3 linked regions of the Homo sapiens genome follow. The protein of the gene in region 2 interacts with the protein of the main gene of each other region in a pairwise test. Each region holds a gene or a part of one and is shown on either strand. Other genes may lie near its edges.

The links. The genes of interacting proteins can lie anywhere in the genome.
Region 1: the proteins of JAKMIP2 (region 2) and ZNF263 interact in binary tests that used the Homo sapiens proteins (3 or more experiments, as listed by UniProt).
Region 3: the proteins of JAKMIP2 (region 2) and CLIP4 interact in binary tests that used the Homo sapiens proteins (3 or more experiments, as listed by UniProt).

Annotation. Positions count from the first base shown.
Region 1 is NC_000016.10:3,278,602-3,286,722, reverse strand, and holds the start of ZNF263 (zinc finger protein 263), read right to left. Parts: upstream 3,233-8,121; 5' UTR 2,905-3,232; coding exon 2,518-2,904; intron 1,665-2,517; coding exon 1,484-1,664; intron 1,043-1,483; coding exon 969-1,042; intron 701-968; coding exon 574-700; intron 1-573. UniProt on the Homo sapiens protein: Transcription factor that binds to the consensus sequence 5'-TCCTCCC-3' and acts as a transcriptional repressor.
Region 2 is NC_000005.10:147,639,494-147,646,769, forward strand, and holds part of JAKMIP2 (janus kinase and microtubule-interacting protein 2), read right to left. Parts: intron 5,504-7,276; coding exon 5,357-5,503; intron 4,706-5,356; coding exon 4,565-4,705; intron 2,272-4,564; coding exon 2,215-2,271; intron 1,331-2,214; coding exon 1,211-1,330; intron 268-1,210; coding exon 139-267; intron 1-138.
Region 3 is NC_000002.12:29,153,371-29,160,646, forward strand, and holds part of CLIP4 (CAP-Gly domain-containing linker protein 4), read left to right. Parts: intron 1-2,983; coding exon 2,984-3,073; intron 3,074-3,833; coding exon 3,834-3,977; coding exon of another isoform or gene 3,978-4,032; intron 4,033-6,962; coding exon 6,963-7,097; intron 7,098-7,276.

The sequences.
Region 1 (8,121 bases), on a different chromosome or scaffold from region 2:
CAAGACATAGGTAAATCTTAATTTATGATATGGCCTACTTTGGAGCTATACATTGTTTCCAAATTTCCACAAGACCCTCCCCACTTTCTGAATTTTTATGGGCTGTGAGAGATGATAGGCTGGAATGTTGATCCTACTACCCCTGAAATTTTTGTCTTTGGGGACGAGCCTAGAAACACTAACGGAACACAGGAAACACTGGCGAGCTCATAAGAATAAGCATCTGAAAATTGCAAGGAATCAACCATTTAGAGCCCCCCAGCATCCTGGAATACTGCATGTGTGTGATGCTGGCAGGTTGTCACCGCATTGGGTTTGCTCTGCCCTAGGAAGTGCACATGGCTCAGACTCGCCTTAGGCTCTGGCAGCTGGGACTCCAGTCCCGGGCTGCCTGTGCCAACTGTACCACTTGGCAGATACATGACTCTCGTACAGGGGACTTTAGACAAAGGGAAGTCTCCTGTGGAGGCTTCTTGGCAAAACTCAGAGTCTGTGTCCAGGAGGTGAATGAATAACGGGCAGGACCCTGGTCAGAAATGGCGCAGTCATCATCCCTGGAAAAGAAGTCCTTACCCAGTGAGTCCACATTCTCATAACTCTCCTGCACCGTGTCCCTGGAGAGGGCCCTCTTACTAGGATCCTGATGCCCCCACTCCTCCTGGGAGATGTACATTGCCACGTCCTCTAAGCTCTCAGGCAACTGAAACAGCACAAGATCTCCTTTAGCCCCTGATGCACCAAGAACAATTCAAGCAGAGTCATGGGTTAAAGGGGCAAAATCCAGGGATGCCAAGCACATGTCAGGGGGGAAGAAGGGTATCAGGCCTCCAAGTGAGGTGTGAAATAGACAAAGCAGTGGGGGAGACGCTGTGGTAAGGGACAAAGGACCTTCCACATGGAGAACCCCCACCCCCAACACTCAGGGGAGGAAGGGTGCTGGGGGGAGACAATGGAAACTTCCACATCACCTGGGGCCCAGTCATCTCCTTGTCTTCCATGTTCCCTTCAGGAGGAAAAAGAGAAAGCCAGGGAGCAGATAATGCTGAAGGTGACAGAAATTATAATGAGAATGGCATTCCTAACTCTTGGCAACCCAAGGATTATTAAAACACAGTATCCATTCCCCAACACCCAGCCTCTGCTTTTGGGAATGACGCTAAACTGCACAGAGGCCTAATCAGCTGATATCCAAAATGACAGGGTGAGAGGGAAGGAGTACCAAGAGTAGCACTCCAAACCCTGCGTCATTCAAGTGGTTCTAAATCGCCTCTGTTCTGCATAAAAAAGGGCTCTACTGAGACTCCCTTCCCTTCCCCCAGCCCCAGGAGAACCCACACCACCAACTGCAGGTCTTTCATTCCACAGGTGAGAACCTGATCTTCAGAAATTCCTTCTCCTTCGCATCATTGCTACATCCAGCTAGTGTCGGGGGCAACCCCCAAGCCCCTCCTCCCTCCCACCTGCCCAGATAACTGTGCCTCACCCCTCTCCTTTACAGCCTGGGGGTCCCTTTGGGGGCTGGGGCCTAGCAGCTCCTGCAGCCTGGGGCCAGGGCTTCGCTCAGTCTCCATTGGCTCCAGCTTGAAGCTCGGTGACTCTCGTGCTGTTTCCAGAGGCAAAGGCTCCTCCAAAAGCACTTCTGTTCCCCGCCCATGGTTTGTGACCTGGGAACCAACCCACATCACTCATCATCACAACAGGGCCCAAGAGGAAGGGAAATTAGTATAGGATACTGAGAGCAAACCTTCAACAGAGAACCTCAGGCGATCCCTTTGGGCCCAGGTAACAGAAAAATGGTTTACACTAAAGGCTTTTTTGATCCCATGTGCAGGGGGAGGGGTTAGGGAAAGGGCCCACTCCCAGAGCACACCTTCCCCACACAGCTCTTAAGATACACCTCACTCCCTTTTGCTCTCCCCACCTTTTCTAGGTGCTTCTATTCCTCACTATAGGATAGGCTAAATTGGGGTAGCCCTGGGGACCAATGACCTCAGGGCCTCGGTGCCAAATTATCTTTCAAAGTTCACAATTAACGGAGGCCCAGCTTTGCAGAGAAGACCAGACCGTGGACCCTAACATAACAACAGGTAACAAGTACTAAGCACTCATAAGCTAGTAGTGTTCACAACTTTACATGCTGCTCTCCCTCTAAGCCCTAGAAAGTATGTTAATATCCTCATTTTACGAATAGGAAAACAGGCCGAAAGAGATCAAGTAACTTGCCAAAGTAACAAAGCTAGTACTAGCAGATTGAGGATTTGAACGCTGGCGATCTAACTCCATGGCTAACACTAACTGTTGCAGGGACACCGCCTCCGCGTGGAAACAGGGCACTCTTCACTGCTTTCGTTCATTTGGGGGAAAATCTGGAGGATGAGTGTTCCAGGTTAAATCACAAGTCCTCTTCCCCACGTAAGGTCTACTCAGGGCAATTTACTTGAATTCGACCGGGGGCGCAATGTCCCAGTGCTCAGGGCTAAACAAACCACAGATAAAACAGCTCTCTCTCTCTCTCACCTGTTGTCTCAGTCTCCCAAGCTCTCTCTGCATATCCTCCACAAGGGTCACCGCTTCTTCGCCGCTCTCCGGATGCAGCTCCTGCACCCTGCTCTGGATCTCCTGGGGCAGGATGGTCAGGAACTGCTCTAACACCAGCAGCTCCAAGATCTGCTCCTTCGTGCGCATCTCAGGCCGAAGCCACCCATGGCAAAGCTCTTGGAGCCGGCTGAGGGCTTCCCGGGGACCAGCTGCCTCTTGGAAGCGGAACCGTCTGAAGCGCAAGTGGGAGGCCTCGGGGCTCGGTCCTGGGTCAGGTGGGGGCAGCTCCTGGCTCCAGGCGCAGTCCTCCTCCAGCTTCACTATCAGGAGCCCTTCCCGTTCCTGGGAGCCCGGGCCCGACGCCATCGTCAGGTCTCCAGAGCGCCTTAGCCCGAAACCAGCCGTGCCCGCCTACGAAGGCGCCCTGAACCCATGTAAGGTTGGACGGCGCCAGCAGGAGCCCGGGGCCGGGGGCTCCCAGTCCAGGCCGAGGAGCCCCGCTCCAGCCCAGGCGCGGCCGGCTCCGGCGCCTAGGCCTCAGTCGGTCCCAGGCGCCGCCACGCCGGCCCCGTGGCCCATCTGCGCCAGGACTTCCCCGAGGCAGGAACCGAGCGCCACGCTTCTCACCCTATATAGAGGACCCACGCAAGACTCAGACCTCTGCTCCCACGCCGGAAATCTCAGCGCGCAAGTTAGGCGTCCACAAGCCCACGGCGCCTGCTCGTGACCAATTTCCGGGTCACGTTTTGCGAACTCCAGCGCCCATTAGGTCAGGTTTCTCCACACACTCACCGCCTACCAATGAGAAGGGAAGATTGGCCTACGGGGACTGGATGAGCGAGGGACCAATTGGAGACGAGAGGCGGGGCCACGGGGCGCGCCCTGAAATTCTGGGAGTGACTGGGGGCAGGGCAGCTGGATCCAAGCGAAGAAAACAAGCCTGAGGTCGTTGTGACTGGCGGGCAACCTGGGTTAGAATTACTCCGGAGCGCTTGGGAAAACGCAGATCCCAGGGCCACGCGCTCTCCAGTGCGTCAGTGTCGGGGTGAGACCCGGAAATCTGAATTGTTAATCAGCTTCCCCGGATGAATCCTTTCCCAAGCCAGGCCCCACCCGCTTCGGCTACTCTGGGCTGGCTGAAGATGGTCCCATTGGCCCCTGCGGCCTCGTCGGCTCCGGAAGCCAGGGGCTCCTCGGCATGTCGGGGAGGCCAGGGAGCTAGCCGCCCGCCCAGTCAGTGGCGCCGCGTGGCCTGCTGCGCGGGGCCTGCTGGGAGATGCAGTCCGCGGCGCGGCCTCGCGACTGCGCGTGCGCCCTGGGCGAGCGCCCAAGAGCCCGGCGGTTCTGAAACCCCGAGTCCCGCGGAGAACCCTGCTGGGCTTTGGGCTCGCTTCTGCGGCTGGACGTCCCAGAGGAGCGCTCGGGTCTGGGTTCGCGGCACCTGCTTCCGATTTTAGACCGAATTTTAAATCTGCCCGAGATGTGCAGCGCCTGCAGTTCATTCTCCAAGTTTCAGTCTCTTACCCAGCCCTGCAAGGGCGGGATCTGCCTCCAGCTCCGCCGTGGACTGTGATAGTTGGGGGCGAGTGGCAGGAGGGCCGCAGGGCCGATTCCCTATTGGGCGCGGTTGTGGGCTTTGTGTCGGTGAGCGGGGCTGCCCAGTTGTGAGGCGGCCCAGGTCCTCCGGGCCATGAGATCCGCAAATGGAAGCGTCCTGGGATAGAATGTGACAATCAGTTACCGTGTATTGAGCGTTTATATGCAGATCGATCCTGAAAACACGTTAGTATGAAGCAGATGCTATTAGCAGCCCCTTCCTACAGGTGGTGGCACTGAAGTCATTTACTTGGGTCACACAGCTAGTCTGTCGTCAAAGGTGAGGCTACCATGATAGTAGAGGGTAATATGGGATTAAAGGGGTTTGTGATGACTAAGTGAAAAGAGTACTGATATTTTAGTTTTTTTCTTTTTTTTTTTTTTCCGAGACGGAGTTTCGCTCTTGTTGCCCAGGCTGGAGTGCAATGGCGCAGTCTCGGCTCACTGAAACCTCCCCCTCCCGGGTTCAAGCGATTCTCCTGCCTCAGCCTCCTGAGTAGCCGGGATTACAAGCGCCCACCACCACGCCCGGCTAATTTTTGTATTTTTAGTAGAGACGGGGTTTCACCATGTTGGCCAGGCTGGTCTCAAATTCCTCACCTCGAGTGATCTGCCCGCCTTAGCCTCCCACTGTGCTGGGATTACAGGCGTGAGCCACCACGCCTGGCCTTTTTTAAAAATTTTATTCCAGGGAAGATGACAGATCCACAGGCTGTCGTGGCAGATGCAGAGCCAGCGACCCCATAGCACTCAAGGTCCAGTTTGGAAAGCCTTGTTTGCTCCCTAGGACCATTCTGGTGGTTTTAGGCATTCCTGTTCTTTTGTTTTTGAGATAGGGTCTTGCTCTGTCGCCCAGGCTGAAGTGCAATGGCACGATCATTGGACATTCCTATTTCAAGAGACATAGATTCTAGACTCATAACCAATTGCAGAAGACTCTAGCCTCAAAACCACTTTTCTCTGACATTTACTATGTAATCTCAGGCAACTTATGTAATCTCACTAAACCCCAAACTTCAGTTTCCTCATTTGTTTTGAGGGACTACTATACGCACCTCACCTCATATCACTGGGTTAGGATGAAATGAGCGGAGCTACACAGGATGCTTAGAACAGTACCTGGCACATAGTATGAATCCGATAAATAGTAGCTGTTACGCATGCACAGCAAGTTCCTGAATGTGTGCCTTATCTCAAAAAAGAAAAGCCACTCAGATTATTATTGCAGAATCTGTGGCATGGGAATGTTTGCAGAACTACACATACCTTGAGATAGGGAGAATGAGGGATTAATCATTTTCTATCTAAGGTCCTTTTGATTTTATGCTATTTATAGGTACTTAAAAGTAGATGAATTTAGGCTAGGTGCGCTGGCTCACGCCTGTAATCCCAGCACTTTGGGAAGCCAAGATAGGCGGATCACGAGGTCAGGAGATCGAGATCATCTCCTGGTTAACACGGTGAAACCTCGTCTCTACTAAAAATACAAAAAAATTAGCCGGGCATGGTGGCGCACGCCCGTATTTCCAGCTACTGGGGAGGCTAAGGCAGGAGAATCACTTGAACCTGGGAGGCAGAGGTTGCAGTGAACTGAGATTGTGCCACTGCACTCCAGCCTGGGCGACAGCAAGACTGCATCTCAAAAAATAGCAATAATAATTTAATTTTTTAAAAAAAGATGAACTTTCAGGGTTATTCAAAATCAGTGGTGGTAGTAGTCCTCCTCCAATTCTTTGTGATCTGCCAGTATGTGGAAAACAGACTAGCTGGTATTAGACTAGGAGTGGTGTTAACAGGCCAGCAGATTTGTAGGGGTTTTTTGTTGTTTTTTCGAGATGGAGTCTCGCTCTATCGCCCCGGCTGGAGTGCAGTGGTGGGATCTCAGCTCACTGCAACCTCCGCCTCCCAGGTTCAAGCGATTCTCATGCCTCAGCCTCCCGAGTAGCTGGGATTATAGGCACCACGCACCACACCCGGCTAATTTTTGTATTTTTAGTAGAGACAGAGTTTTGCCATGTTGGCCAGGCTGCTCTTGAACTCCTGACCTCAGGTGATCCGCCCACCTTGGCCTCCCAAAGTGCTGGGATTACAGGCGTGAGCCACTGCACCCGGCCAGGGCCAGGGTTCTTAAGCTGCCTCCATGTCTGGAGCAGTGCTATCCAATAGAACTTTCTGTGATGGTAGCCAATGGGCACTTAAAATGGAGTTAGTCTTGCCAAGTATTACCATACTGGCCAATGCAGTTCCAGAGGATCCATGGATGGGTTTGGAGATTTTTGTAAACCTTTTGATACTGTATGCAAAATTGGATGTGTGTGTGTGTGTGTGTGTGTGTGTGTGTGTGTGTGTGTGTGTGTATCTGTATGTTCTAGTAAGTGGGTTCATAGCTTTCATCAAGTTCTAAAAACCGCCAAAAAGACTAAGAACTGCTACTTTAGGGCTTTGGTGAAAAGTAAGTAGTGAAGAGAAGTAAGCGCCTTTGAAACCAGTACAGATTCTACTTTCTTAACACTGTAAGTCCTCAATGTCCTAGATAGGTTGGAAACTGTTATCTTAAGTGAAAGCACATTTTGTTATAAGGTTGATGACAAAAATAAATTAGTTTCATTATATGTCTTTTCCCTTTAAGTCCCAGTTTCCAAGACCCTATCAATGATGTTAAGTGAGGACTTACCGTATTAGTGATGTTAAGTGAGGACTTAACTGTGTTTTCTCATCCTCAGCTGCAGGTGACTTCGTGACTGTTGCAGAGAAAAATAAATTTGAATCTTCGACAAAGAACCCTTACCACTCCTGGTTTTAGGTCTCATGGGTACTAGACTCTGTCTCTGGGACTTCTTTCATTCCCTAACTAGCTCTTACAGATTCCTTTGTACTCAAGGGGCCAGTTATCTGTGCCTGGTTTTCAAAGTGACATTTGGTGAAATCTACAGTGTTAAGACTTTCAAGACTAGGCCACGTACTGTGGCTCACGCCTGTAATCCCAGCACTTTGGGAGGCTGAGGTGGAAGAATCACTTGAGGCCAGGATTTTGAGACCAGCCTGGGCAACATGGCAAGACCTCGTCTCTACAGAAAAAAAATTTTAAAAATTAACTGGTTGTGGTGACATGCAACTGTAGCCCCACCTATTAGGGATGCTGAGGCAGGAGGATTGCTTCAGCCCAGGAGTTTTGAGACCAGCCTGGGCAACATAGCCGTCATTTTAAATCGATGCTTTTCCTGTCTTTCATCTTAGGGTACATTCAGCCTCCGGGAGCTTCTGCCACTCTAAGCCTTTGCTACTTGCCACTCCCCCCAGCTTTGGTCTCTCCCCTCGTTTACTTGACTACAGCATTCCTTTGATCTATGACTTAGGGTTTTCTTTTTTTCTGAGACAGAGCCTTGCTCTGTCGCCCAGGCTGGAGTACAGTGGCGCAGTCAAGGCTCACTGCAGCCTCTGCCCAAGTTCCAGCGATTCTCCTGCCTCAGCCTCCCGGGTAGCTGGGATTACAGGCACACGCCACCATGCCTGGCTAATTTTTGTATTTTTAGTAGAGATGGAGTTTTGCCATGTCGGCCAGGCTGGTCTTGAACTCCTGACCTCAGGTGATCCACCCGCCTCGGCCTCCCAAAGCGCTGGATTTAGGGTTTTCTTTTACCTGTACCACATGCTCTTTGATCCTACTCCTAGCTTTGAAATCCAATCATAAACAAAATAGCAAATTTAAATGGCATTTCATTTGAAATGCATTTTATTTTTATTAATATGGAATATATTACCTTTCCTCATGAAAAGATAAAATGAGACATTTTACGCCACTTATATTTTGATTAAATGTTCTGGAGTTTAAATTTTCCTTTGGACTAACATTAACCAAACTGTCTTACTAATATTGTTTGATAATGTTAATATTTAGACATATTCCTCTATTTGCATATTAGATCACTATTTACCAACCTATTTTTTTTTTCAGACCAGTAAACTGTCAAGATGAGGAGGGAGAGG
Region 2 (7,276 bases):
AAGCTATAACAATTCAAAAGCTGCAGAGGAGAGAAGAATACAGGGAAAGCTGTCTTATTGATATTTTTATGTCCACAGTGCTTTTATGCTGTGACTGCTGCACGCTAATTCAGAGCACTCTCACAGATACACACTAACCTTGGCTTCTCGTTCAGCGTCGATGATGCCTCCCGTCTGCTCCTGTAGGAGGGCATATGCTCTTTGGAGGGCCTGATATTCTTTTGTTAATTGTCGAAATCTTAGTTCAGATTCTTCAGCTGCTAAACTCTTGAGGTTAAGAAAAAAAGCCCCAAAACAATTGTGTTATGTTCAGGTCCTGTTTTCAATGTGAAATATTAACATTTGCCCACTTTTTACAAGAAGTAAAAGGTTGTTTAACAGTCTATTTGATTTTATTTTTAGCTCTGAAGTGTATATACGGGCACAAATACTGTAATACTTTCAAGATGGACACTGCAGAAATACATAAATATTTATTTTAGTAAAAGAAGCATTTAGCATTTGATACATTTCTCATTGTTAATCATTTGAGCTTAGAATGTAGTCAATTTTGGATCCAAATAAGAAAAAGTCATATCCAGATTTTGGACCTAAATTTGAGGAAATGATACCCTAGAATTTTCTTATTTCTTTTCAGTATGTTCATCTCCAGCAACTTGTTTTTTCCCCCAGATAAATCATAAAATCTGTTTTATTGCATTACATCTTAAACTTCAGGACATAACATAATCAGCAGGGAATTTTGGGAAACAATGCAGACTGGGGTGTTTCACTCCTAAGATCCTGAGTCAGGAGTTGCATGGTAGAGTCCAGGACTTTTCATTGTAACTGAGCCCTCTAGATCATTCTGATGAGGATGGTCCACAGAACACACTTCACTCAACAGTGTCAGACCACATCCAAAAGCCTGCTAAGGCCTCTTGGGTTCCTACCTTCCCTAGATAAAGAATATTGGAAAGTAACTTTTATTTTGAAAGAAGTCTTCAAATTAGAGAGTTGAACTGGAGAGAAATTTCTAAAAGGTTTACCTGCTATAAGTGAAGCTATTTTTCAAGAGATAATAAAGTGCAGCCTCAAAATTGTTTACTATTATGAGATCACTTTGTGCTGTTTATATAAAGGAGATGAAAAGTGAAATCCTTTTTCTTCCCCCTTAAATCAAAGATTTGGTGACAATATCACCCTAGGCTAGAGAAGTAGAAAAGCTTACTTCATCCAAGTCATCATCAGGAGTAGCTGGTGTTCTGTCTGTTCTAAATGAGGCCATGGATGATGTCTCTGAATCCATAGAGTCCTCATCATAGCCAATAAACGGGTCCAAAACAGGCCTCTAAATGGAGGGAAAGTACCTATTTACTGACATAGCTAACAGTAGGGAAAGTTGAACGTTAAAATACTGTCAACTGGCATACGTGTAAGTGAATATAGAAGACATGGATCCTCTATGCTTCTTTGTTGAAATAAAAACATTAGGCATGAGCATAATTCCAATAAGTGTTTCTCTCATATTATTTCACTTCTGACATCTTAAGAAAAATTCATAATATGTAGCTTTTTTCATAGAAACACTGAAACCTCTTTCATATTACATTTTATATCATGATGAGCTAGTGTGGTTTACTCTTTCCTGTATTTAAACTATGACCAAAGGATTTTGAAAACTCAGGTATCTATGTGATGGAGATGATCAAATCTTAAGCCTTGTCATCCAAGTCCACATTAAAAACCAATGGTATACTTGGTAAAAACCAAAATAAAAATCAAATAGACAAACTGAATAACAAAACTTTGTGGATTATAAGAGGCTATACAGATATTGATGGATTGGGAGCATTGCTATCAATAAGATTGTCTGAATGAATAATGAAAATGTATTAATTGTCATAAGTGGGAGACATCAAATCATGTGCATTTCTTGAATATGACTCTCCAACTTGTCAGGTAATCCTTTCTACATCAAACCTAGGGGCATCTCCATTTAGAGAAAGTTATATTAAAGCAAACCCCTTTCAGGTTAAAATTTACAACATAATCATTTTTAGACTTCGAAGAAATGTCAACAGAAAATATTTTCTTCTAGCAAATAATGCCCATGGTTTGCTGCAACAGTTCTGGAACACCTGATTCATCACATCTTTGTAGGAAGATTCCATGCCAAGCCTCATCTCTCTGGCTGTTTGTGGCAAATGCCTGATAACTTTGATTTCTTATTACCTTAATTGGCTTGGAACTTCTTCTATGCTTTCTTCTACGGATGAGCTTTTCTCGGTCCTGGAAAACAGATGAAAGATTTTCAGATCCAGAATTGGTAGATGTTTCTTTATAGTTTTTTGCAAAGACAGAGTGTTCTTTCCCATAAGGCATTATATTTGGAATAGAATAAGACTTTGTTTTTTAAATTTTGGCAACTTTTGGGATTGATACTTAAATATATTCAAAACAAGAATCTTCTACAACTATTCCTGATGAGTTATGTGGATCAAGGAGCCTCATGATCAGAAAGTGTACTGTGTTCCTAATCAGAATCCTGTTTTATACTTGAACATCAAGTAGCTATGAAAATAGTTACTTATATTCCCCCAAAGCACAGTACTTTAGTTCTCCTAGATCCAAAATTACTTTAAATTTGTGTTAAAAATACAATTTCACAATAAAGTAAAACCGTATTCTTTTCATTTAGTCATTTGAAATGCATAGAAAGCTGTCTTTGGCCTATTTTTGCATCCTTGTTCTCACCTGCAGTCCCTGAAAATAGGACAGGGAACAGAGTAGCTAGCGGGTTGGAGCCATTTAGTGTTTCTGTTTTGTCTTCAGTTTTTAAAAAATTTTCTGGGAATCTCAAAGAATGCCTAGAAATATTGATCAATTTCATGATTTATTGTTGCTGTGAATAGAGATATCATGGGAATTTGGGGTTTATTCACTAAGCACTCCATGTATTTACTGTAAAAATTTAAACTAGATAGAATGTCTTTTGAAAAGTCCGATGAGTGTGCCTAAATAGCCCAAAATTCTATAAAAAATTTACAGCTTAATCTCAGGATACTCAAAGCCAGGCAAATTCCTGGGCTCATGAATTTGTAAAATGTATGAGTTATTAGGATGTGAAAATGAAATGAGGAAAACAGGGAGTAATGAGTAATCTTGTTTAAGCCAGTGGTGTTCGGGCTTTTTTTTTTTCACCTTTATAAGTAAAAATGCAGCCTCTATATATGAGACTTTTACAATTTACACATTATTGTGATGGTTAATATTGAGTGTCAATTTGATTGGATTGAAGGATACAAAGTATTGTTCCTGGGTGTGTCTACGTGGGTGTTGCCAAAGGAGGTTTAACGTTTGAGTCAGTGGACTGGGAAAGGTAGACTCACCCTCAATCTGGGTGAGCACAATCTAAACAGCTGCCATCACAGCCAGAATAAAAACAGGCAGAAGCACGTGAAGAGACTAGACTGGTTGAGTCTCCCAGCCTACATCTTTCTCCTGATTCTTCCTGCCCTGGAACATCAGACTCCAAGTTCTTCAGCTTTGGGACTTGGACTGGCTTCCTTGCTCTTCAGCTTGCAGATGACCTATTGTGGGACCTCACCTTGCGATCGTGTGTGCCAATACTCCTTAATAAACTCCCCATTATATATACATCTATCCTATTACTTCTGTCCCTCTAGAGAGCCCTAATACAATTATATATTTAAATTACCTTCCTAATCTAATGTATTCATTGTAACATATAGTCAACATAGAAATTTTAAAAAGGATGAATCATAAGTAATTATAAACAGAAGCTATAACCTTTCTCTGTCTCAGTGGCAGTGAATCACTTTTCTCACCTCACTCTGGAGACTATTGCCTAACTCCCTCCTTGCAATTCAAGTCTTTAGGCCTTGACTTGGTCCTGAAGTGAGAGCAACCAACGATGTCATTCACAGAACACAGATGGAGAGGCAAAGAAGAAAACCCAAAGGCACCTAGAGGTCTTAGTGCATCCTTACTAGCAACACAAACCTCAGCCAAACTCTGATGGAAGTAATAACTGCTCTACCCACTCAGTAGGTACTGAAGTAATGATCAGAAAATCTGGGCTGAAATTTTAGCTCTGTTATGTAATTATATTGTTGCTGTTCATCCAACAAATATTTGTTGAACTGTAACTATGTGCTAGACACTGAATTGAGACCTGGGAAACAAGGTATATATGTGATGTTGTTAGCATAGACAACATATTAAATCTCTGAGCCTCGGGATCCTGCTACTGGAAGGCAGTTACAAGACACACCCAACCTACCTACAAACTTATACAACGAGGCATTTAAAAGTTCTTTTAATGTGCTTTGCTGTTATTATTTGTGCTACCAAATTAGTTAACAAAGGGTTATAATTTAAAAGGTGTAAAGCAGTTGAACAATATAAAATATTGGAATACAGTCTCTAGAACAAAATTACATATTTAACATATGAACTTGGGCCTCTGGGGTTAAACTAAAATTAACTGCTTTCAGTGTATATTTTGTTGGCTACTTGTCCTTGGGAACAACTTAGGGTTTACAGATTGATTGACACGTACCCTTGTGAGCTCATCAATAATGTTCTGTTGCTCAATGACCTGAAGTTTTAGAAACTCTGTTTCTTGTTCTTCATTAGCTTGGTCGAGGTCATTCAGAGATTTTAATTTCTTCAGGGGTGGATGGGATGTTATTTTTTCTCTCTGGATTGGAAAAGAAGAAAGTACAGGTGGAGACTTTAAAAACCTCAAACTTTGGTTGTTAACATAAAATATCTGTAGAAAGTTTATGAGGCTCCAGCTAAATTTGGAAATTGCCCAGCCTGAATACACATACACCAACTAAATCCTCAAGCACATTTTATCTGCCATAATAAGTCATTATCATTGGGGATTGTCAAAGATCTCTATAGATGTATTGAAAGTCTATTAAGGAGTACATTATCATTTCACTTGTCCGCATATAACACAAGTAATGGTATCTATTTCCCAAATATCATGCACGATCTTAGAAGACAAGGTGTGCCTGGGGTATAGGTCTGTAAATAGCATGTTAGTGAAGTCATGGATGGTTTCTGTGGCTAAGTTATGTCAAAGCTTTCCTTCTCCATTTCCAAGCTTTGGAAAGTGTGCAAATTCCTGGAAGCACTCCTACAGTTTTGCAAATATAGAAACCTCATAAAATTCAGAGCCAGCAACCTTCTCTTGCTTTCTTCATTAAGGCTTCCTTGCTTACATAAGGAAAAATCCAAATAGCACTGTATTTTTAAAATAAGCTGAGAAATGGCAATAAGTCAGGTTATTAAGGTAATATAATCAAGGAAGCTGCAGTTTTGCAGAGTCTGTGATACACACCATTTCTGAATTTTCCTTGGTAACGGCTTTTAGTTTTTCTTCCATGCGCTGCAAGGACACCATCAGTTCATCGTTTCTCTTGGCGAGGCACTTGTTCCTTTCCAGGAGAGGTTTACATTGCTTTTCGGTTTCCCGCACACGTTTTAACTGGGAAGAAATAAGTGAAGATTTGTGTCTTGCGTTTGGGGGACGTGGGGGCAGGGGAGTAAAGTGGTGGGAGTGAAAGCACCTCTGGAGACAGCCTTGTCTCTGCTTCACTATGTGGCTGAGGACTGACCACTGACATTTCAATCCTTCATTTAACAGACTGTTTGCTTTCTTTTCAGTTTTCTCTAACGGTTTTTCATCACAGCCTTCATAGCCTTATATCAATCCATTGTCTTAAGGAAAGTACTCCAGAGACTGGTTTTGGAAATGCTCGGGAGGACGCGCTCTCCTTGCTTTCTTTCGCTTCCCCGACTTGTTACTCCACCGTGCTCAGCTGCAATCCCTGCACCTGGAATGACCTGCATTAGCTCAGAGATAAAGGAGCTCACCCAGACCACACGGCCACTAAGTAATGCGACCAGGAGCTGAATCCAAGCCTGGTTATGTCCAAAGGTCATTCTTTCAGAGACCTTGTGGAAATCTCCTGACTCGCACTACAGTTGTTATTTTAAAAGAAATTTTATCGAGGGGAAAAAAACCACACGTAAGTTTGAAACTCTGTGGATGTTTGTGTAAGGATATCAAATTCTCCCCAAGCTTAGTAAAGTATGATTGTATTGTTATCCACCCATAATTAAGAGTGAGCATACTCTCATTTGCTTGGTTAGTCTAAAGCAGGGTTTCTCAGTCTCGGCGTCTGTGACATTTTGAGCCGGATGTTTTTTTGATGTAAGGTGTCCTGTGCAGTGGAGGATGTTTAGCGGCATCCTTGGCCTCTGCTGGCTAGATGCCAGTAACACTCTGCTAATTGCGACCATCAAAAACATCAGATATTGCCAAAATCGCCTGTAGTTGGGAACCACTGGTCTAAGTTTATGAAAATTGTCTTGAGGGGATTGTCAATAGTCCTCCCCTTTACTTTTAAAACACTCCTTTTTGTATATTTCATGATCATCCTATACATTATAGATTTTCATTTTCAGCTTCTCATGATTAGCTTATTCTTTTCTTACTAATGATTCTGAATGTGAGTATGTATTGGGAGAAGAGCAAGGAAAAAGGAGGGCTGTATTCGAAATATTTGAGAAGACTTTTTAAAGTGCGCACTACTGTTCTTGAGATTCTAAGATTTTGGGAAGTGCTGAGGTGGAAGACTTAGCTAATTATGAATATTTGTAAAATCTCATCTTACGATTCTTAAACAGCACTTCTGCAAATCCATCTCAATCTCAATTTCGTATTAAAGAAATAACTCCATTTCATATTAAAGGCCAAAACTGGGTTTATTTTTACAAATAATCTGACTTAGTCCTGAAGCATTAATGCCTTAGTCCTTAGTGCCTGAAGCATTAATATTAAATATTGCATACATATAAGGACAATAAGTTATTCTTATTTTTTAATCTGTCTCTTCTGAAGGTCAATGATGTGAGTTTTAAATATTTAAATTTACTTATTAATACAATTCACAGAAAATGCAGATATACATAAAGAAAATATCTATAATTCTATCACATCATACATCAATAACCATAGTCCCACAATACCCAACAAAATGTTCCTTTTAAGATACACCTTAAATAAAACACAGAAAGGTTGGAAAAAAGTGTGTTTGTGTGTGTATATATGTATGTGTAAATATGTATGTATATATGTATGTCTATATAGTTATAAATACATATATATATACACATACACATGTATATGCACACTAACACTAAAACAAAAATCTGATGTAGTTCAACTAATAACAACGACTTTAAGCCAAGAAGT
Region 3 (7,276 bases), on a different chromosome or scaffold from region 2:
CATGCTATTTATCTGTGTGCAGTAATTTGACTTCTGCCTTTTGAGGTCCTCACCATTTTTTTCGACTTCTTATTCATATCCTGTCTCTAGTTCACTTTAATCTCCTCATTCCCTAACTTTGTATGTGCTTTTTTTATCCATACCACCCAATTGTTATTTGTTATCTTGGGTTTTGTCCTCGGATTGCTTTATTTGTGCAAGTGTCCTATTCTCTCGGCAAAATTTTAAACTTTAACTGAACCATGAGAGTAAATTGTAGTGTTGTTTTCACTGTAGCAATGCACAAAACAGGTGCTCAATAAACACTTGGTAATTTGTAAATAGTTGAGGTAGAAAGCTCTCTACCAGGATGAAAGGAATTTGTCCAAGAATTAGGCTGGCCTTTATATTCTGTTCCACTGGGCTATTTGAATATCCCTGTGTCAATACTGCACTCCATAATAAGTAGTTTTTAAAAATAAATCTTGATGTCCAGTAGTGGAAAACCTCCTATCTCATTCTTGATCATTGTCTTGCTGATTTGGGGCTTTTATAAATCACCCTTCCGTATACATTTTACAATAAACTGTTAAGTTTCCTTTTAAAAATTCTGTTGAGGTTTTATCTGATGTTTTAGTTGAAGCTTAAATCAATGGGAAAGAACTGACATCTTTACAATAGTCAGTTTTTAAATTATGAGTTTAGAATATCTTTCTGTTTAATTAGGCCCTTTGAAAATATCCCAACAAAATTGTGTAATTTTTTTCTACAGGTATTTTATATCTGCCTTGTTAGGTCTATTGGTAGGTACTCCATACTTTTTGGTGGCATTATAAGTAGCATCCTTTTAACCTGAAGCCCAGAAGTATACGGTAAATATAGACAGAAAGCTCCAAGAGAAGCCCCCTCTATTTCTGGTCTGAGGAGCAGAAAAGGGGTCTCCTATTAGATAGAATGTGGATGAAATCACCTGTTATCTTTATTGCTTGCCTTTTCTTTCCCTTGTTTCCCATCCAGTCCCCAGGCAGTCCTACGTGGTATGGATGGGCAGCTGTGAATGGGCAGGCACCCGAAACCCCAAGGAAGGGAAATCCATGTCTCTGACCAGAGAAACTTTGGTCCAAGGACATAGATGGAATCCACATTGGTTTTTCTTCTGTTTTCTCACTGCTTGGCCCCAGAGGCACAATCAGTCTCAGGATTGTATGACAGAGCAAGGAAACGAAAGCTTAGACATTCTACTCAGAATACCGGGAAGGGATGCCCAGGAGCAGGAAGTGTCAGGGAAATCATAGAGAGGAGGGGACTCAAGAAAGAGGCCTCACAATTTTGGCTGTGAACTCCTAGGTCTTCTTGCAAGTGGTGTATGCATGGATCTGACCAAAGCCTTTGGTCTCCTTGGTAGACCACTGCTTGGGTCCCAGCCTGACTACTGGGCTGCACAGCACATGAGACAAATTCAAACAGCATTGCAGAGGCTGCGGAAGCGGAACCCACATCAGAACCACAGTGCACAGAGGGTGGTCAGGAACTTCTGCCCAGAGGCTACATGGGTTGACTGCCTGCTAAAATGAAACAGTCAACATCCTCCATAGGATTTAAACAAGACCTATTCCAGTGTCCATACATAATATTCAAAAGACACAAGATACAATTTAAAATTACCCAAAATATGAAAAAGTCAACACCTCTTACAAGGAAAAAGACAGTCCAAGCATAGCAGCTTTGAGATGACATGGACATTGCAATGAACACATAAAGATTTTAAGTAATGTAACCACACTCCAAGAATTAAGGGTGTAGCTGGGCATTGTGGTGCACACCTGTAGTCCCAGCTACTCTAGAGGCTGAGGCAGGAGGATCACTTGAGTCCAGGAGTTTAGGCTGCAATGGGCTATGATTGTGCCACTGCACTACAGCCTGGCTAACAGAACAAGACCCTGTTTCTGAACAAAAAAAAGAATCAAACGTGAACACTCTTGAAACAAATGAAAAGAAAGTTTCAGCCAAGAAATAGAAGATATGAAAAACAACCAAATGATACACCCAAGTGTATACACACACACACACACACACAAGAGTACAAGCAGAACTGTGGAAATCTCAGACTGGTGAATTGTATCACTGCCAACATCCTGGTTGACATATTATACTTATTATACCACAGTTTTGCAAAACATTACCTTTGGAGGAAACCTAGTCAAAATGTACAGGGAATCTCCTTGTATTATTTTTTATAAAAACTTTAAAGAAAATATTTTATAACTGAAAAATGTAATGAAAAATAAAAATTTACTCTTCAGGTTGCCTTCACAAAATGTCTCCTCTCCACCCTCTTCATTCAGTTTCTGCTGTTGGAGTTCAGGCTCTCATGCTTGGACTATGCTAATAATGTCTGACTGGTCCCTGCTTCCAGCCTCTCCCGCTGTGGTTTCGTTGCAGCCCTGCTGTCAGGAGAGTGTTATTTAACTAGACTCTGTTCATGCCAGTATTCCTTTTCAAAGCCCAGCAGAGGCTCCTTCTTTACAGAAGAGTTCTCAGTCCTTAGCTGGGCACTGGCATCCCTGTCTGAAGTGTTACTGTGACCTGTCTGTCTAGTCTTGCTTTTCCTACATTTCATAAGTACTCTGTTCCAGCCAAGCTACTCACTATTTTCTGTGTCTTAAGATTTTCTTTTTGTCCATCAAGAATGCCTGCCCTCAGTTCTTCCTGACCATACGGCTAGTATTCTCAGGAAGAAATCTGACCTGTCCCTTAGGACCCATCTCAGAATGTGATCATCTTGATGAGACATTAATTGATCTTTGTAGCCACTGTTACTGTCTCCTTCTCGTATGCTAGTGCTTATACCAAAACATGTCCTCATATGTCTGTGCAGTTGTTATCCAATATGTTTTCAGAAGTGAGTGAGATTTCGATAATGAGGGATGCATGTACTTTAAAAAATACATTTTATGTTTAATGTTAAAATTCTTGCTTAAAGTGTTTTATTTTTGTGTCCAAGGATTAATGACATCAAAAAAAGATAGTGCTTCTGAGTCAACACTTTCATTGCCTCCTGGTGAAGAACTTAAAACTGTGACAGAGAAAGATGGTAATATACCTTGTAACCTCTGTTTCTCAAAATTTAACTTTTGATGGAACTTTAAAATATGGTAGGAAAACAGTTTATATGGAGGTTAAGTTTTAAAGTTGGCAAGGGAAAAATTATAGTAAAAATTAAACTTGGAAATCACTGAAGCAGCTCATAGCAAGCTATATACATTATATTTTTTGTGTGTAAAGTACTGCATTATGATTCTTTTACTTAAATTAGATAACTACTGGACTAGATTTAAGAAAATAAACGGAAATTCCATAATATAGAGCACTCTACACAAATGTTTCATTTGCCTTTAGCTATCAAATCATTAGATGAATTGAGCATGAGTATTCCTTCTTGCCTTCTGGTTTAACTCAAAATGTCTTAATATTAAACTTTTGTTGCCTTAAAACATATTAATATCATGTTTAATTTTTGTATAAAAGGGGACTCTACTATGTCATCTAAGGTGAGAGGTGACTGATGGTCATTAGATTAGGTAGTCAGTTCACATCAATTGATGTGGTGATACCTCTTACATAAGATTGTGATCTTACCGTGGGAATCCTTAAAATATTATTGCTTGTGTTATAAAATCTTTTATATATAAACTACAATTGCTATTTGGATGAAATTAGGCATTTAATTTGACACTAGATAATCCATAATTGAGGAAGTTAAATGAAGAATTTCAGAAAGATTTGCCTTGACAAGCTGCTTCTTGGTCCACATCTTATTTTCCACCGTTTGACACGTTCTTTATCTGTTACAGTTGCCCTGCTTGGATCTGTCAGCAGCTGCTCCTCTACATCTTCTTTGGAACACAGACAGAGCTACCCCAAGAAACAGAATGCAATCAGCAGTAACAAGAAGACAATGAGCAAAAGCCCTTCCCTTTCATCCAGAGCCAGTGCTGGTATCTATGGCTTTTTCAACCAGGCTTTCTTGGTGTTTTTTATCTTGGTTTGTTTGTAAGTAGATTTGCTCTTTTTAAATGTGTAGAAGGAACCCTTTACTTCAATCAGATTGAACTACTTTTACTCTTCCCCACCTCCCCCGAACCTTAAGCCTTAAGGTCTCTTTGTTTTGCCGTCTCAGATATAAGACTTTGCATTTATTTTCATGTAATTCATTCTTAGTGGTTTTACCTCATCTGAATTTAGCTTCTTCACAGGCCTTTGTGTCATCTTCATATTTAAAAAGCATGCTTTCTGTGTTTTTATTCAAGTGATTGTTTTAAAACTATGTTTGCTTAAAACCTAGGAGAAGGTCAGAGGGTCCTCTCCCAGGATGGCAATACCAGCCAGTTTTGATATGGCTTTTTAACTAGCCGTGAACCTGCATAATCTCACTCAGTCCACATTTCTTCAGTTATTTGTAAAGATACGTAAAACACTTTATCAGACTTCTTTTCGAAATGACATAGATTTTGTCTGTTGCAGTTCACTTATTTGCCTATATAGCGAACTTGTCCAGAAAGGCAAAAGCCATCTTGGCAAAATACGTTCTTCATGAACCTCTTTATTACCAGATTCTTTTTTTAGTGCTTCTATTAATAGTTCTTGTAGTGAACCAACATTTTATTATGGAAAATATTCATGACAGATTTCTAAAAAAATACTTGATGGGAAGAAACCTCCAAAGCTCTCAACAATAACATTGACATAATAAGCCTAAAAACTGGGACCCTAAAAGTAGAGAACCTGAAAGTTTTCCCTGAAATTGTTTGCCTGGAATATTTATTCTCTGAGTGGCTTCCTCTCTCCATACCCCAACCAGTTTTTCTTTATGTTGTGAGGAGCAGAGGTGAGAAGGTACAGTGCTGACACAGCCATCCTGTTTGTCCAAATTTCATTCACATTTTAAGGCCCCCTTCATTTGGTATTTGCACTTTTGACATTTACTTGATTTTAAAATTTATACATGGGTATGGAATTACTTTTTTTTTTTTAACCTTCTAAACAAAGTAGTCTAGCGTGCCTATATATTTACCATTTAAAAAAATAAATTTGAGGGTTATGTCGACTTAAACAACAGTGAAGATGAAGAGAGTTATCAGAGTGAGAAAGAGGACCTTTCAAAGAGGGAGATGGGCCGAGAATGGGAGATATGGGAAAGTCTGTGTTGGGAACCCCAGAGACATGTACTTAAAACATGTTTCTCTAGTGAGTAGATATTCCACTTGTTTTATAGATTTGCATTTGAGGGAGATGTAGACTGCAGAGAACGAACAATAATGGAAAGTTAGGTTAAAAAATTAGAGAAAGAAGAGTGGAAATAAAGGATTCGGGGAATGGGAAAGGTAGGGACCTCGGCCTCATCATATCCCATTGTTATTTACTTTTTATTTTTTATTAAAGACAAGGTCTTGCTGTGTCGCCCAGGCTGGGGTGCAGTGTTGCAATCATAGTGACTGCAGCCTTCAACTCCTGGACCCAGGTGATCTTCCTACCTTGGCCTCCTAAAGTGCTGGGATTTACAGGCATGAGCCATCATGCCCAGCCTGTGTCCCACTGTTGAACTTGCCATCTTTGGTTCATTGTCTACAGGCGACAAGGGGACGGGCCTGAGGATTTCTGATCACAGAGTCTTGGTTTTAATCTAGGTGTACCACTTACTGGCTGTTAACAGTGTGTCTTAGTTAATTCCTGAGTTTGTATCTTATTTTTCAGCATAATTTTTAGGAAAAGCACTTTGTAAACTATGAAGTGCTATAGAATATTGGTTATGATGAGGGCCTCGGACTTACTGGTATAATCCAGACCTTCTCCATGGGTTTATTTTCCTTGTTTAGTTGCTGTGTTTTTGATTTCTTCTTTTTTCACAGTATGACTTACCCTCCATCCCATGCCCTCCTCCAGAGTTCTCTACTCCCTCTCAGATGGCAGCTCTTCAAATCTTTGTTTATGTACTGATGGGACAAGGCTCAAGCACCCACTTCTTCTCTTTCAGCTGTTATATTTGAACAGCTTTCTAGATCATATTTCTCTAGGACTTCTATGTTTAATAGTGGGCATTTCAAGGTTTAGTTTTGAATCAGGTTGACAGGGCAGTGGTTTTGTTCTTAATAACAAAATCACTTTAGGATAATTAGAACCGTATAGCAATTTAACCTTCAAATCACACTACTTTTGGCTGGTCACAGTGGCTCATGCCTGTTATCTTAGCACTTTGGGAAGCTGAGGTGGGAGGATCACTCAAGCCCAGGAGTTTGAGACCAGCTTGGTCAACACAGCAAGACCCTGTTTCTTTAAAAAAAAAAAAAAAAAAAAAAAAGTCAAATCACATGACTTTTTATATAATTTACACTGAGTCTAAGTGAACTATTAATACTATAATTCTAGTATTTTAGTAGAATAGAAATTGTCAAACTATGGCCCATGGGCCAAATCTGACCTACCACTTGTTTTTGTAAATAAAGTTCTTTGGAATGCAGCCATGCACATTTGAAAAAAATATATTGTCTATATCTACTTTCATGCTGCAACAGCAGAGTTCAATAGTTGTGGCAGAGGTGGTATGGCTAGCAAATCCTAACATATTTACTGTCCAGCAATTTGCAGAAACAGTTTGCTGTGACCCCTGTTCTAGTAGAGATGCTGCAGGCAATCTTGGAAGAGTTGGTAGTTTACCAGGGATCAGGTTTTGTGAATTTCCCATGGCAGTAATTTTCCCAGGAAACTCTTCACATTTCCTTTGAGCAGCTTGACCTCACATGTGAGAAACACAACTGTAGATGACTTATGTGATGAAAGGCATCAGATATCAAAATCACCAACTAACTAGACTAGTTAGAATACCTAGTGTGATTTTTTGGCTAATGTGCTTTTTGAGTTTTTCTCCCTTTGTTTTTTCTCCTCTTTTCCTGCCCTGCCCCTGTATCCCTCCCTGACTTAAACAGGTTTGAATTCCTCAGCAACATCTACAGCAAATAATAGCCGTTGCGAGGGGGAACTCCGCCTCGGAGAGAGAGTGTTAGTGGTAGGACAGAGACTGGGCACCATTAGGTTCTTTGGGACAACAAACTTCGCTCCAGGTAACTCATCTGCATATTTTCTTAACTTGAATTCTTTAGAGTACAAAAGGTTTAAAATTTTACATGTAAATAGAATTTAATTGTAGAGAAATCTTGATGAACAGTTTTTGTGGATGGCAGCTATAGTACAGAAAATGTGAAATGATGATGAAAACTCAGACTGTTTACTCACGTGGATG